Regions from separate parts of the Homo sapiens genome. Here region 2 is linked to region 1. Evidence: fine-mapped expression QTL. A gene starts in region 1. The other region holds a variant in brackets. All regions are shown on one strand. Distances are between the middles of the regions.

Region 1 (8,425 bases):
GGTCTGCTAAGCATTTGAACAGCAAAAGGAAAGGGACGTGGCAATCCAATGCCTAAGTCTATAGTTCCCACCTTGCCCTCCTGGCAAGACCCTACGTCATATTCTGGCTCTCAGTCATTTGGAATAGTAAACTCAACTGGTCTCAACATGGCATCAACTCTGGGACCCCAGGTACTAGGCTATTAACACTGGTACTTGACTGAGGACGAGATGTCCTAGGAAAAACATTTCTAACTACATAAAAAAAAAATATGAAGGGAAATCTATTCAAAACAACAAAAAAAGATACACCAACAATACAAAATCTGAATTTTTACTGTAAGAAATTTACTGTAAGAAAACTATGTGTTTCACTTAAACAGCATTAGGTTTAGGAAATATGATTTCTTTCTAACATCAGTTTAAGTGCAACTGCACTTCTGTGGGTAGAGCATTCAGTGACAGAGAAACCTAGGTATCTATGCCAGAGAAATGTGACATTATGTATTAAGCTTTCTCTCTGAGAGGAGGACAAGAGAGGTATAGTCTTTGGGGTGGAAGGGATACTTAAACGCAACCAGTAAGGACAGGATCCTGAGCAAAGTCCTTTAACCACAAACACTTCAGTCAAGCTTGCCCTATTCCCAACCTTCCCTACATCTGATTTATAGTACCATAGCATAGTTAATGTCAAGAGTAACGGGATGGGGGAAGAGCTGGGTAGTACAATGGATAGGGTGACCATATAATTTATTATCCAAACAGGAGCATTTTTGAGAGTGAAAGAATGCCCTATAAATAGTCAAGCTGCGACAACAGACATGAACTGGGATTTTCCAAGCCAATCAGTACCTATGGGGTACACTAATAACAGACACCTCTTCAAAGTGCTGCTCCACCTCACTATGTGACCTTGGACAAGCCACTTACTCTCCTGGGGTCTTGATTTCTTCATCTGTGTAATCGGAGAGGTGAGCTGAATAATCTCTTTTAGGCTTTTGCAACCTTATGGCCCCCAATTTCCCAAAACCCCCCAAACCCCCATCAAGTTACATACCTTAGTCATGTCAACAGTATCAGGTACAACGAACATTCCTGGAGGAGGCTCCTTATAAATGGACATGATATCCCTGTATAACACCAAGAGGAGGTGGGGGAAGGAGTGAGGAAGAGGGGGAAAGGGGGAATCCCTTGAGCAGGACAGTTGTTATCACCTCAATGAGGCCAGGGTTTGAGAAAGTGGTGCTTGGTACCGCAAGTGTTTGTACTGTCTTGTTGGCTGAGAAATCTCAGCTGAGTACTTGTCAGGCAGGCAGAGAGCAAATTATTATCAAAAGGGCATTGTTTCCTCAGGGGGAGGGGAGGGAGAGAGGAAAAAAATCAGAGATCCCAATGGCATCAAATGTCAGCCTGGAAAAGCCACTTTCCACTTACTCTCACTTCCTCCCACATGGCAATTCATTCACTCCCCACCTCCATGATTCCCAGGTACTACGACTGAATGCTAAATGAAGATTTTTTAGTAACTGGAAAGGCATCATCAACTCCACTAAAAAACTAATTCTATAAACTATACAGTGGACCTTTATTGGTAAGGGGATTGTATGAAGCAAGCCAGCCAGCAGAGAGTAAGACTATCATGGTGGCCTTCTTGCCCAGGGGTGTCTCAGGGTAGAGATCTCTTCAGGCTGGGGAGGGATCCTCAGAAATTGCTAAGAATCTCCCATCTGGAAGATGACATGTGGACTTCCATAGGAGATAAGATTTCTGACTCATATCTCACCAACTGGAATGGATCAGTTGAGAGCAAGGGGCTAAAGAACATTCTAGGTGGCGAAAAGCCTAGGGACTTGCTAGGGTGGGTAGGGACATAAAAAGGGCAAATAGGCGACAAAGCAGAGGAAAGCATTGGCCAAACTCAAAGGTATGTCAGAATTGGATGACTGAAATGGCTGGAGGAGGAAAAGAGTTGAGTGCTGAGTTTCAGTTAGAGGTGGCAATCCCTCCACAGTTGACCTCCTGTGTCAGGCACTGTGCCAGGTACTTTACACACATTATATTAATTTTTATTACAACCTTGAAAAGTAGACACAGAGACATCTGAAAGGACGTGGAACATGGGGAATAAGAACTAAACGAAGATGCTTGTGATGGGGGCATGGGGAGAAGTCAAACAGGTTTCAGGATTAATAGCTAAAGAGCACTGCCCTTTTCTTATGCGATAGGTACTATTCTATGTGCTTCTGGAAAACATCATCTACTAAATGATAGGATCTAAGATCAGTCACCCAAGAAATAAGCACAGAAAGGACTTAGGCCTTTGTTCCTATATTTGATGAGTATATTTGCTTCATAGAAGTAAAACAGACGACCCGGGGAGGGTGGGGGGTGGGGGGAGGGAAATTACAAGAAAGAAGCTCCTGAGTGGGATATTACAATCCAGAGTGGCACTGGGGAATTGGGGGGAGGTAGCCTGTGTTTCTGGAAGAGGCGTAAGAGTGGACAGCTTTGGGACACTGGAAAAGGGGTTCAAGGAAAGATTGGGGCGAGGGAAGCGATCTAGACCTGGGAAAAGACTGTGTGGAGGGAATCTGAGAAAAACGGAGGATAAAAAGAAAGGTTGGCTCGAGTCAGAGGCATGGCAAAGGAAGCTGAGTTCGTCTGTGTTAGGAACGGGGCTCCAGAGGAGAAGAGAGGGGACCGATGGGTGGGGCCTGCGGGCAGCATCTAGCAAGGTTGGGGTGGGGAAGGGGAAATAGGGGCGGCGCCGAAGGCGGGAGGGGGCGTTACTGAAGCGCTAAAGGGTCGGGTTTCCACCCGGAGGTGGGAGGTGTGGGGGAGGGTGGCCGGAATGGAGACGGAGGGCTCACGGGAGGTTGTCGAGGGGCGGGGTCGGATCTGGGCACACGAGGCGGGGGTTGGTGCTTGCGGGTCTGAGGGTGGGGGGAGAAGGGAGTTGGATCCCGACGCCCGGAGCTGGCAAGATTTGGGCCGTGGAGGTGGGCCGCCGCGAGGGCAGCGCAGTGGGTGGGGGGTGAGTTGTAGTGGGAGAGGGTGGGGGGCGGGGAAGGTCGAGCCCCGGAGCTCGGGGCTGGGGGAGGAAAAACCCCGGCTCACCGCTTGATCCGGAGTAGACACTGCGGCGCGGTGCGCTCGCCGTCCCAGTCGGAGCTGAGCGTGGGGTCCCAGTGGCTAAGCAGCGCGGCCCCGTGGGCAGCGGCTGAGGGCGGGAGCCCGGGCAGCGGAGCCAGGCCGCTCCCCGGGCCCCCGGCCCCGCCCGCTGCCGCCGCCGCCGCCCACACATCCGGCAGGAAAGGCGGCCCGAACCCGCCGCCGCTGCCGCTAACGCCAACAACACCAGCAACGCTGCTCGCCCCGGGGCCCGCCGCCCCGGCGCCCGCCGTTGCCGCCTCCTCAGTCGGACTCTCCGCCATCGCTGCTTCGCTTCCGGGACTACTCGGCAGCACGTCCGCCGACCAGAGCGGCCGCTGCTCCCGCCCGCTCCCGCACCACCGAGAACCGGGCCAGAGTGTCCCCACCCCCTCCGCTTCCACAGCCCAGACGGTGCTGGCTCCGCCCACCCCCGCCCCAACCAGCGAGAGGCGCTCTGCAAGAGCGTCCACCTACGGTCCTCCAGGACGGGAGGGGTGGGAACTAGCAGGCCGTGATGGTTCTGGGCTCGTGTGGGTCCTGCGCTGTGCGGAAGTAGCGGAGAGCCCAATTCAAGTGTTGAAAGGGGAGAAGAGAGGAGGGAGTGGGGGAGGAAGGGCCATATCATTCCCGTTAATGGCGGCGACCCTCAGACGTCTGCATGGTTAGGATTGGGGATCCAGCATCCTCATGGGAAGCTCAGTAGAGAAGTTGACTCGCTTTGGGCCCCTTCTCTCGGAAAGGCTCTGCGATTGATCCCTCCTGCACACTTGTGCACCTAGGGCAGGGTACCATTGCCCTTGCCTGCAACAGGACCAAGAGAGAACTCAACTTGGAATGAAAAGCTACCTCTTTTAGAGTTTATTCAACATATATTTATGAAGGGCCTACTAAATGCCAGTCACTGTTGCTAGTTGTTGCCATGGGGATAATGAAACAGAACTAGAGAAGCTTGGTGAAAGGAAGAAACATCAGGCCTCCTGACTCCAAGCTTAGTACTTTTTCTTCCCACAAATCTTGGAATATACAGGAATCGAGGTACTGTGAGTGTAAACCCTGAGGATTCTTTGGGTCTTTCCTAAAATGTTTAAAGTGAAAAATAATCTGCCAGGCTCGGTGGCTCACGCCTGTAATCCCAGCACTTTGGGAGGCCGAGGTGGGCGAATCACGAGGTTAGGAGTTCGAGACCAGCCTAACATGGTGAAACCCCGCCTCTATTAAAAATACAAAAATTAGCCGGGCGTGGTGGCGTGCACCTGTAGTCCCAGCTACTCAGGAGGCTTAGGCAGGTGGATCACTTGAACCCGGGAGGCGGAGTTTGCAGTGAGTTGAGATCACGCCACTGCACTCCAGCCTGGGCGACAGAGCCAGACTCCGTCTCAAAAAAAAAAAAAAAAATTCCTATGGACTAAGAATGACAGGGGCCTTCCTAAAAAACTGTTTTTCCTTGCCGGGCGCGGTGGCTCATGCCTGTAATCCCAGCACTTTGGGAGGCTGAGGCGGGCGGATCACTAGGTCAGGAGATCAAGACCATCCTGGCTAACACTGTGAAACCCCGTCTCTACTAAAAATACAAAAAATTAGCCGGGCGTGGTGGCGGGCGCCTGTAGTCCCAGCTACTCGGAAGGCTGAGGCAGGAGAATGGCGTGAACCCGGGAGGCGGAGCTTGCAGTGGGCGGAGATCGTGCCACTGCACTCCAGCCTGGGCGACAGAGCAAGACTCCGTCTCAAAACAAAAACAAAAACTTTTTTCCCTAGCAAAAATATAGGATCAATATTAACTGGAAACCAGTGGGGCCAGATGTATTTCAGACTTTGGAATGACACACCAAGCAAGGAGTGGGGCAGCGCCGGGTAGCCAAACCTATTGACATTTCTGCATCAAAGTGTATGAACATTCGTACCAAGTCAAATGAATAGCCTCACTTTGGATGTTTTGCCACCAAGTTTGGTTTTTTAAAAAAGAAGTCTGGGCCGGGCACGGTGGCTCACGTCTGTAATCCCAACAATTTGGGAGGCCGAGGTGGGTGGATCACCTGAGGTAAGGAGTTCGAGACCAGCTTGACCAATATGGTGAAACCCCGTCTCTACTAAAAATACAAAAATTAGCCGGGTGTGTTGGCAGGCGCCTGTAGTCCCAACTACTCAGGAGGCTGAGACAGAAGAATCACTTGAACCCGGGAAGGAGAAGTTGCAGTGAGCCGAGACTGAGTCACTGCACTCCATCCTGGGTAAAAGAGTGAGACTCCGTCTCAAAAAAAAGAGTCTGGCTTTAGAGTTTTTTTGTTTTTTGTTTTTTGTTTTTAAAGAGGGAATCTTGCTCTTGTCACGCAGGCTGGAGTGCAATGGCGCAATCGTGGCTCACTGCAATCTCCGCCTCCTGGGTTCAAACAATTCTCCTGCCTCAGCCTCCCCAGTAGCTGAGATTACAAGCATGCCTCTATGCCTGGCTAATTTTTTGTATTTTTTTAGTAGAGGCGCCTCTACGCCTGGCTAATTTTTTGTATTTTTTTAGTAGAGGCGAGGTTTCACCATGTTGGCCAGGAAGGTCTCCAACTCCTTTTGGAGTTGGATCAAGTCATCCGCCCTTCTCGGTCTCCCAAAGTGCTGGGATTACAGAAGTCATCCACCCACCCCACCCTTCCTGCCTTTTAGAGTTTTATGAATTTACAGTAATGGAATGCAGACCTGAAGGATAATGACCAAGATTTATGGAGAGCTAAAGATTGATTTGTTTTGAGACAGGGTCTTGCTCTGTCACCCAGACTGGAGTGCAGTGATGGGATCACAACTCACTGCAACCTCTGCCTCAGCCCTCCAAGTAGCTGGGATTACAGACACGTGCCACGATGCCCGGCTAATTTTTGTATTTTTCTGTAGAAGCGAGGTTTCACCATGTTGCCCAGGTTGGTCTCGAACTTCTGGGCTCAAGCAGTCCTTCCGCCTTGGCCTCCTAAAGTGCTCGGGATTACAGGCGTCAGCCACCGTGCTTGGCCTAAAAAATTATTTTTTTAGCAGACATTTATTGAGTGTTTAATATGTGGCAGGCATTTTGTATACTTTGGCTTTATTCCTTTCAACACTCAGTGAAGTAGTAGGTACTATTATTTATTTATTTTTATTTTTTTTTTGGTTTGGAGTCTTGCTCTGTCGCCCAGGCTGGAGTGCAGTGGCGCGATCTCGGCTCACTGCAAGCTCCACCTCCAAGGTTTACACCATTCTCCTGCCCTAGCCTCCCAAGTAGCTGGACTACAGGCGCCCACCACCACGCCTGGCTAATTTTTTATATTTTTTGTAGAGATGGGGTTTCACTGTGTTAGCCAGGATGGTCTTGAACTCCTGACCTTATGATCCATCCGCCTTGGCCTCCCAAAGTGCTGGGATTACAGGCGTAAGCCACCGCACCTGGCCTTAGGTACTATTATTAATCTGGTCTGATAGATGGAAAAACAGACTTACAGAGGTTCAGTGAATTACATGGGGTCATGCTGAGAGCAAGTCGCATAATTGGGACTGTAAACCAAATCTGACTTCTGAGAACAAGTGCTAACCACTACGTGACACTCCCACACTTATATTTTACCTTGTACTAATTATGGTCCCTTGGTACCTGTTGCCCCCACCCCCCCCCCTTTTTTTTTTCTGTGAGAGGGAGTCTTGCTCTGTCACCCAGACTGGAGTGCGGTGGCCTGATCTCAGCTCACTGCAACCCTGCCTCCCAGTTTCAAGGGATTCTTGTGCCTCAGCCTCCTGAGTAGTTGGGACTACACCACGTCCGGCTAATTTTGTATTTTCAGTAATTCCTACCTCTCAAAGTTTCCCAGAGGATTAACTATGACATTTCCAGAAGTTTTTGTAAAGTGTGGGCCACCATGCCCAGCTGCTTTTTATATTTTTAATAGAGACTGGGTTTCGCCCTGTTGGCCATGCTGGTCTCGAACTCCTAATCTCAAGTGATCCACCCCACTCAGCCTCCCAAGTGCTGGGATTACAGGTATAAGCATCCCCATCCCCTCTTAACACACATACGCACACAACGTGTACACCCTTGGGGCTCTAGACAATGTATTATATGTGAATCCAGCACAGGGCATGGCACAGCTTAGGCGCAACATGAAATGAAATGAATCAATATAGTATTTTATGCAGATTTTGCGTTTTGTTGGTATAGTGTTTTATCAGCATAATAAAGATGCCAGAATATCTATAAAAGGATACACAAGGCCGGGAGTGGTGGCTCATCCTGTACTCCCAGTACTTTGGGAGGCTGAGGTGGATCACCTGAGGTCAGGAGTTCGAGACCAGCCTAGCCAACATGGTGAAACCTCGTCTAAACTAAAAATACAAAAATTAGCTGGTCATGGCAGCAGGCGCCTGTAATCCCAGCTACTCCTGCTGAGGCAGGAGAATTGCTTGAACTTGGGAGGCAGAGGTTGCAGTGAGCTGAGATCGTGTTGTTTCACTCCAACCTGGGCAACAGAGTGAGACTGTCTCAAAAAAAAAAAAAAAAAAAGAGGATACCCAAGAAAATGTTAACAGTGGTTGCCAGCTGGGTGCGGTGGCTCATGCCTGTAATCCCAGCACTTTGGGAGGCTGAAGTGGGTGGATCATGAGGTCAAGAGATCGAGACCATCCTGGCCAACATGGTGAAACCCCATCTCTACTAAAAATACAAAAATTAGCTGGGCGTGGTGGCACGCGCCTGTAGTCCCAGCAACTCGGGAGGCTGAAGCAGGAGAATTGCTTGAACCCGGGAGGTGGAGGTTGCAGTGAGCTGAGATTGCAAAGCGCATGCCTATAATCCCAGCACTTTGGGAGGCTGAGGTGCACGGATCACTTGAGGTCAGGAGTTTGAGACCAGCCTGGCCAACATGGTGAAACCCCATCTCTACTAAAAATACAAAAATTAGCTGGGCGTGGTGGTGGGCACCTGTAATCCCAGCTACTTGGGAGGCTGAGGCAGGAGAATCACTTGAGCCCGGGAGGTAACACGCCACTGCACTCCAGCCTGGGCAACAGAGGGAGACTATGTCTCAAAAAAAAAAAAAAAAAAAAAAAGGACTCCAGAATTTTGCTTGATTATTATTTATTCAGTAAGGTGGTCAAAGGTCAGTTTGCTTGGTAACCTCATACAAAGAAAAACACTATTCCATAGCTCCTCCATAGCTACAGAATACAAAGGCCCAGAGGTGGCCCATGGGGTGAGGGGATTCCTCAGTGTATCTCACCACTGGACCATTATTTTCAAGTACAAGGTCTGGTAGTGATGGGGCAATGAACAGAAAACCCTTACCTT
Region 2 (8,000 bases), 29 kb before region 1:
GGAAGATAGACCGACTATAGGCTGAGTAGCCAGTGTCTGTGATCATTCCTTGAATGATCTACAGTAGAATTTTTTATGGCATTTTCCCTCTTTATTAAAAAATATTTAATTTTGGCCAGGTGCAATGGCTCATGCCTGTAATCCCAGCACTTTGCAAGGCCAAGGCAGGCAGATCACTTGAATCCAGGAGTTAAAGATCAGCCTGGGCAACATGGCGAGACTCCATCTCTACAAAAAGTATAAAAATTTGCCAGGTGTGGTGGCATGTGTCTATAGTCCAGCTACTCGGGAGGCTAAGGTGGGAGGATTGCTTGAGACTGGGAAGTTGAGGCTGCAGCAAGACCTTGTTTAAAAAAAAAATTTTTTTTTTTTTTTTTTTTTGAGACAGTCTTGCTCTGTCACCTACGCTGGAGTGCAGTGGTGCCATCTTGGCTCACTGCAACCTCTGCCTCCCAGGTTGAAGCAATTCTTGTGCTTCAGCCTCCCAAGTAGCTGGGATTACAGGCCTGCACCACCAAATCTGGCTAATTTTTGTATTTTTTGTAGAGAGGAGGTTTCACCATGTTGCCCAGTTTGGTCTTCAACTCTTGGGATCAAGTGATCGGCCTTTCTTGGCCTTCCAGAGTGCTGGGATTATAGATGTGAGCCACTGCACTGAGCCCTTCCTCATACTTATAAACTTTAAAAAAAATTATTCACCGGGCGCGGTGGCTCACGCCTGTAATCCCAGCACTTTGTGAGGCTGAGGCGGGCAGATCATAAGGTCAGGAGATGAGGCCATCCTGGCTAACACGGTGAAACCCTGTCTCTACTAAAAATACAAAAAATTAGCCAGGTATGGTGGCACATGCCTGTAATCCCAGCTACTCGGGAGGCTGAAGCAGGAAAATCACTTGAACCCGGGAGGTGAAGGTTGCAGTGAGCCAAGGTCGCGCCCCTGCACAACAGCCCAGGCAACAGAGCGAGACTCCATCCCCCCAAAAAAAAAAAAAAAAGAAATTACTAATTTATTATTTTTTAGCATTGAGGTTTCTGTCACCTAGGCTGGAGTGCATTGGTGCAATCAGCCCACTGCAGCCTTCAACTCCAGGGCTCAAGTTACTTTCCTGCCTCAACCTCCCAAGTGGAGCTGGGACTAGAGGCATGAGTCACCGTGCCTGGCCCCAGTGTTTTTTTTTTTTTTTTTCTTGAGACAGAGTCTCACTCTGTTGCCCATGCTGGAGTACTGTGGTGTGACACTCTTGGCTCACTGCAACCTCCTTCTCCTGGGTTCAAGTGATTCTCCTGCCTCAGCCTCCTGAGTAGCTAGCTGGGACTATAGGCATGTGCCACCATGCCCGGCTAATTTTTTGTATTTTTAGTAGAGACGGAGTTTCACCATCTTGGCCGGGTTGGTCTTGAACTCCTGACCTCGTGATCCACCCGCCTCGGCCTCCCAAAGTACTGGGATTACAGGTGTGAGCTACCGCGCCCGGCTACAGATGACTGATTTTATCTCAAACAATGAATAACAATCATAAACGATATTTATTTGTGTGCCAGGCATTGCACTATATAATTTACTGCTTTTTTTTTTTTTTGAGACGGAGTCTCGCTCTTGTTGCCCATGCTGGAGTGCAATGGCGCGATCCTGGTTAACTGCAACCTCCGCCTCCTGGGTTCAAGTGATTCTCCTGCCTCAGCCTCCTGAGTAGCTAGCTGGGACTATAGGCATGTGCCACCATGCCCGGCTAATTTTTTGTATGATTAGTAGAGACAGGGTTTCAGCATGTTAGCCAGGATGGTCTTGATCTCCTGACCTCGTGATCTGCCCCTCTCAACCTCCCAAAGTGCTGGGATTACAGGCGTGAGCCACTGCTCCTGGCGTGGCCCCAACTTTGTAAACATATATGGGATTATAATATAATTACTACTGCTCTATAACCTACATTTTTGTTTTCTTTTTTTTTTTTTTTTTGAGATGGAGTTTTGCTCTTGATTCCCAGGCTGGAGTGCAATGGCGTGATCTTGGGTCACTGCAACCTTCGCCACCCAGGTTCAAGCGATTCTCCTGCCTCAGCCTCCCAAGTAGTTGGGATTACAGGTGCCCACCACCATGCCTGGCCAATTTTGTATTTTTAGTAGAGACGGGGTGTCTCCATGTTGGTCAGGCTGTTCTCGAACTCCTGACCTCAGGTGATCCGCCTGCCTCTGCCTCCCAAAGTGCTGGGATTACAGGCGTGAGCCACTGCGCCCAACCTGCATTTTTCACTGAATAGAATATTGTCGTCAGTGGATTGTTTATTTATTTATTTTTTATTTCTACACTCCTGGTAACTCACAGAACATTCAGTGGATTTTTGAATGCTGAGTCTGCATATTCTTTCTCTTAGTCTTGTCTAGACCATATTTCCCATTATATTTCACTGCATGCTTTGTGAATGGAAACTCGTTTTTTCAGTATCCTGAGCCAGAATTAGCCAAATAGAAATGACTTTTGTTTTATTTTTTAAATTTTTATTTATTTATTTTTATTTATTTATTTTTTTTGAAACGGAGTCTCACTCTGTTGCCAGGCTGGAGTGCAGTGGCGTAATCCCGGCTCACTGCAACCTCTGCCTCCCGGGTTCAAGCGATTCTCTTGCCTCAGTCTCCTGAGTAGCTGAGATTACAGGCACGCGCCACCACGCCCGGCTAATTTTTGTATTTTTAGTAGAGACAGGGTTTCACTGTATTGGCCAGGATGGTCTCTATCTCTTGACCTTGTGATCCACCAGCTTTGGCTTCCCAAAGTGCTGGAATTACAGGCGTGACCCACTGTCCCCGGCTGTATTTTTTTTTTTTGAGAGAGAGTTGTGCTCTTATTGCCCAGGCTGGAGTATGGTGGCGCGATCTTGGCTCACTGCAACTTCTGCCTCCTGGGTTCCAGCAATTCTCCTGCCTCAGCCTCCCAAGTAGCTGGGATTACAGGCGCACGCCACCACTCCTGGCTAATTTATTATTATTATTATTAGAGATGGGGTTTTGCCATGTTGGCCAGGCTGGTCTTGAACTCTTGGTCTCGAGCGATCCACCTAGCTCGATGTCCCAAAGTGTTGGAATTACAGGCGTGAGCCACTGCGCCCGGCCAGAAATGACTTTTAGATTGCCTGCCCTCTGGAGCCGTCTGACCCTGTTCTTCAGCAGGAGTTACCGTGAGTCCGATTGTTTCCTGAGTAGCAGATGGAGCAGAAGAACTTCATGCCATGCAGGGAAGACTTCCCATATGATAGATGTTTTAATGCAGGTTTGAAAGAAAAGAAGGGATGTAAATTAATCAATAACCGAGATTTTGTTTTTCTGTCTTGTAGCTGGAAAAGGATTTTGGTCTGAGATGCTGGGCGTGGGGGACTTCTATTACGAACTAGGTGTCCAAATTATCGAAGTGTGCCTGGCGCTGAAGCATCGGAATGGAGGTGAGGGTGGCTAGGTCCTGTGAACTGGACTCTGGACTTCTCTGAGAGGGAGAAAACCGTAAAAGATTATCGTTTCCATCCTGCAGTCTACAGGCCTCTAAGGACTTGAGAGACATCTTAGCTGTTTCATGCAGTTGAATCCATGGCAAGTCTCCATGGCCAAGGGTAAATAGAATTACCTGAACGATTGTCTCTGTTCTCCAAAGATCTTTGGCCAGGAAGGTCTAGTCCCTAGTCAGTACAGAAAATAGTAGAGAGGTAGGAAGTAGGCCTTTTCCCCTGATGTCTGATGTGTCTGGAGTGATTTTCTCATTAGTAACTATAGTCCTGCACTGTCTCTCCGACGTATGGGAATGCCAACTGAGTCTGTGTTCCCTAAAATGTGACCTTAAAATTTGTCATCTGGTGATGCCATCTTTCTTAGTAAGCACGTTAAATGGTGTGGATTGAAGTTACAGAAAGAAAACTTAAAACCATTTACAAATCATCATCAACTATAAATAGACACGGCCTTGATGTCAAGAGGACATTTATAGTTTTTCAAAGATGATACTGCTTTTGTTTTTAGATTTTCGTAGCTCTCTGTTGACAGGCCTAGCAAGGTCTCAGAATCCATTTCTCATATTATGGTCAGTTATTTCATAAGGAGAGTGTTAAAAAAAAATTAGGAACTAGAATGTTATTTGCTACTTGTAGGCCACTGGAATTGTAATGACTGTCAACTTATTTAAAGTGGGTAATCTCTTTTTCTGATTTCTGTTCCCTGTCTCCAAACAGGTCTGATAACTTTGGAGGAACTACATCAACAGGTGTTGAAGGGAAGGGGCAAGTTCGCCCAGGATGTCAGTCAGTAGGTCTTGTCTTCCAATCCCTTGGAGTACAGAAAGAGGTCTTTAAAATTCAGATGGAACTCTTTTCTCCCTATTCCTCATGTCTAGGCTAGCTTAGAAATCTGTATGATCTCCATATCATACAGGAAAAAAAAAAACAAAAAACAAACAAAAAATAAGAGATAGGGTCTCACTTTTGCCCGGGCTGGAGTACAGTGGCATGATCACAGCTTACTGCTACCAAGATCATTGCTTACTGCAGCCTCAAACTCTTGGGCTCAAGTAATCCTCCCACCTCAGCCTCCCAAGTAGTTGGGATTATAGGCATGGGCCAGTATGGCTGGCTATTTTTAGAAAACAGAAAATATAGATTTAAAAAAGGAAACAAAAACCATTATTTCTCAATTAAGAGATTACAACTGCTATATATTTTAATGTAGTTCCTTCTAAGCATTTTTTCATGTATTATTTTTTAACAAACTTGGGGCTATATATAGTCTTTTTTTTCTTTGAGAAAGAGTCTTGCTGTCACCCAGGCTGGAGTGCAGTGACCCGATCTTAGCTCACTGCAACCTCTGCCTTCTGGGTTCAAGCAATTCTCGTGCCACAGTCTCCCCAGTAACTGGAATTACAGGTGTGCACCACCATGCCCGGCTAATTTTTTTTTTTTTTTTTT[TG/G]AGACAGAGTCTCACTCTGTCGCCCAGGCTGGAGTGCAGTGGCGTGATCTCTGCTCACTGCAAGCTCTGCCTCCTGGGTTCACGCCATTCTCCTGCCTCAGCCTCCCGAGTAGCTGGGACTACAGGCGCCCGCCACCACGCCCGGCTAATTTTTTGTATTTTTAGTAGAGACGGGGTTTCACTGTGTTAGCCAGGATGGTCTCGATCTCCTGACCTCGTGATCCACCCGCCTCAGCCTCCCAAAGTGCTGGGATTACAGGTGTCTGCCACCGCGCCTGGCCGCCTGGCTAATTTTTGTATTTTTAGTAGTGATGGGGTTTCACGTTGTTGGCCAGGCTGGTTTTGAACTCCTGGCCTCAAGTGATCTGCCTGCCTCAGCTTCCCAAAGTGCTGGGATTACAGGTGTGAGACACCACGGCTGGCCAGGGCTGTATATAGTCGTGAGATTATTTGAGGCCAAGGAGAGTAGTGTAGGTGCCTAGAAAGGCTGGGGAAGGAGGTGGTAGTGAGATGATGGAATATAAATTGATCTAGTTCTCCAGCCTCTATGTGCGAGTCCAGTTTGAGAAAAGATAAAAGGCTGTTTTTGATGTAACTTCCAAAGAGTCAGCCTACTATGAGATCTTGAAGACCTAGAATATTCAAAGAAAAGTAACGAGGCTGGGTGCAATAGCTTACACCTGTAATCCTAGCCCTTTGGGAGGCTGAGGTGGGAGGATCGCTTGAGGACAGGAGTTCGAGACCAGTCTGGGCAGTGTAGTGAGACCTTGTCTCTACAAAAAATAAAATTAGTTGGGTGTTGAGGCATGCACTCATTGTTCTAGGCTGCAGTGAGCTATGATTGCACCACTGCACTCCAGCCTGGGATATAGAGCAAGACGTCATCTCTACTTTTTTTTTTTGTTTTTTGAAATGGACTCTTGCTCTGTTGTCTAGGCTGGAGCGCAGTGGTACAATCTCGGCTCACTGCAACCTCCGCCTCCTGGGTTCAAATGATTCTTCTGCCTCAGCCTCCTGAGTAGCTGGGATTACAGGTACCTGCCACTGGCGCCCTGCTAGTTCTTGTATTTTTAGTGGAGATGGGGTTTCACCATGTTGGCTAGGCTGGTCTCGAACTCTCGGCCTCCCAAAATGCTGGGATTACAGGCGTGAGCCACCGCGCCCAGCCAAGACCTCATCTCCTAAAAAAAAAAAAAAGGAAAGTGATAACAAAAGATTACTAGCCATACTCATTGCAGATTTCATGAAGAGAGGGTGAGCATTTGAAGCATTTCAGTTTGCTATTCTTTGGGGGTTGGAGAATGCATTCCAATCTACCTAAAAGTGCCCTTTCCCTGGCTGTTTGGGTGATAACATTTTTTGAGCTTTGGCAGAGGTTTTAAACTCTGTATGTGGGCTGGATATGTGATCTACACACTGTTTTGTAGGTTTTCTTTTTCTCTGATTTCAATTAGAATCAGAAAACTTGGCAGTATTGGGTTTGAATTGCCACTTGGCAATAATAGTCAGCTGGGTTGCCCCCTTTAAAATAGATAAGCATTCTCTAGTTTGCCACAGGTGACACTACCCCCATTGCCTCTTCAGCTCACTCATTCACATTTCCTGATGGGCATCTGCAGGTGTATCTTTGACCGCTGTCTGGATGTTGGAATGAGTGGTTCGCTGAGCAGACAGCCTGACTCCTGTGTATCTCCCATGATTGTCCAAGCATCACTTATTGCTCCTTGACCCTGTCTTTTTACTGACGTAGTTGAGTGTTGTGCAGCCTTTTATTTTAGAGGCAGGGTCTCGCTCTGTCACCCAGGCTGGAGTACAGTGGTGCACAATCACAGCTCACTGCAGCCTTGAACTCCTGGGCTCAAGTGATCCTCCTGCCTCAGCCTCCCAAGGATTATAGGCGATTGCCACCATGCCCTGCTAATTTTTTATTTTTAGTAAAGATAAGGTCTTGCTGTGTTGCCCAGGCTGGTCTCTAACCCCTGGGCTCAAGCAGTCTTCTCAATGTGGGCATCCCAAAAGTGTTGCGATTATGGGTATGAGCCATTGCGCCTGGCAGTTGTGCAGTCTTCTAAATTTTCTGTCAGTATCCTGCCCAGGGCAGAGCTGAAACTGTGTTGTTAGGTCTGATTCTGCCAAGGGTCGTTAAGCAACTCTTCCTTACCTCAGAGATGACCTGATCAGAGCCATCAAGAAACTAAAGGCACTTGGCACTGGCTTCGGCATCATCCCTGTGGGCGGCACTTACCTCATTCAGTCTGTTCCAGCTGAGCTCAATATGGATCACACCGTGGTGCTGCAGCTGGCAGAGGTACTGGTGCACCTTCGAGTGTGTGTGTGTGCAAGGGACAGTCTGTGAGGCAAGTCTGGAGCAGTTCTCAGCTCGTGCTCCCCATTATGCAGGTCTTTTGCTGAGACTATCCAGTGGATGAACTACTCAGGCCTGTGCTTGTTCAGCAGACATTTATTGAGCAGCTACAGTGCAAAGCACTGGGCCAGGCTGTGGGGCATATAAAGATGATAAAATTCCTGCTCTCAAGGAGCTTACAGTCTAGTCAGGTAGACAGACATGCAGACAACTAACTAGATTTCTTTGGGTAGCCAGACTCTTTGATGTCTTTTGAAACTACTTTATGGATTCTTCAAAAACAGATTTTAAAAAATCTTGTTTGCCATGCCCCCATCCCTCATCATGCCTTAAGCATATGCCATCTTCCCCCAAATCCCCATCAGGTATTTAGATGTGTTCAGTTTTATTATTTTTGAGATGGAGTTTCACTCGTTGCCTAGGCCAGAGTGCAATGGCGTGATCTCAGCTCACTACAATGTCAGCCTCCCGGGTTCAAGTGATTCTCCTGCCTCAGCCTCCCGAGTAGCTGGGATTACAGGTGTGTGCCACCACGCCCAGCTAATTTTGTATTTTTAGTAGAGATGGGGTTTCTCCATGTTGGCCAGGCCTGAGTTTGGTCTCGAACTCCCGACCTCAGGTGATCCACCCACCTTAGCCTCTCTAAGTGCTGGGATTACAGGGGTGAGCCACCGCACCCGGCCCAGTTTCCTTT

Alleles and levels. Positions count from the first base shown, and alleles are read on the strand shown. Sizes are in standard deviations (SD) of each study's normalised expression.
For the expression in monocytes of the gene that starts at base 3,510 in region 1, G is the high allele of the variant in region 2 and TG is the other (moderate effect, 0.65 SD a copy in Fairfax 2014).

What was found. PIP is the estimated chance that this variant, and not a neighbour inherited with it, causes the effect.
Region 2: its variant is fine-mapped to the expression of UBE2Z in monocytes (Fairfax 2014, PIP 0.95).

Annotation. Positions count from the first base shown.
Region 1 is chr17:48,903,492-48,911,916 of GRCh38, reverse strand. It overlaps UBE2Z (ubiquitin conjugating enzyme E2 Z), which reads right to left and starts at 3,510. Exons shown (of 7, transcript NM_023079.5): 1 at 3,097-3,510; 2 at 1,037-1,109. The coding sequence starts at 3,413. It overlaps LOC105371814 (a long non-coding RNA gene), which reads left to right and starts at 2,934. Exons shown (of 4, transcript NR_135674.1): 1 at 2,934-2,978. RefSeq lists enhancers at 1,729-1,778, 1,799-1,848 and silencers at 2,722-2,851, 3,122-3,371.
Region 2 is chr17:48,932,454-48,940,453 of GRCh38, reverse strand. SNF8 (SNF8 subunit of ESCRT-II) reads left to right here. Exons shown (of 8, transcript NM_007241.4): 4 at 3,330-3,434; 5 at 4,212-4,284; 6 at 7,108-7,249. Among named protein-coding and RNA genes, the nearest start is that of SNF8, 8.4 kb to the left of the region's middle. The variant TG/G (reference allele first, on the strand shown) is at 4,941.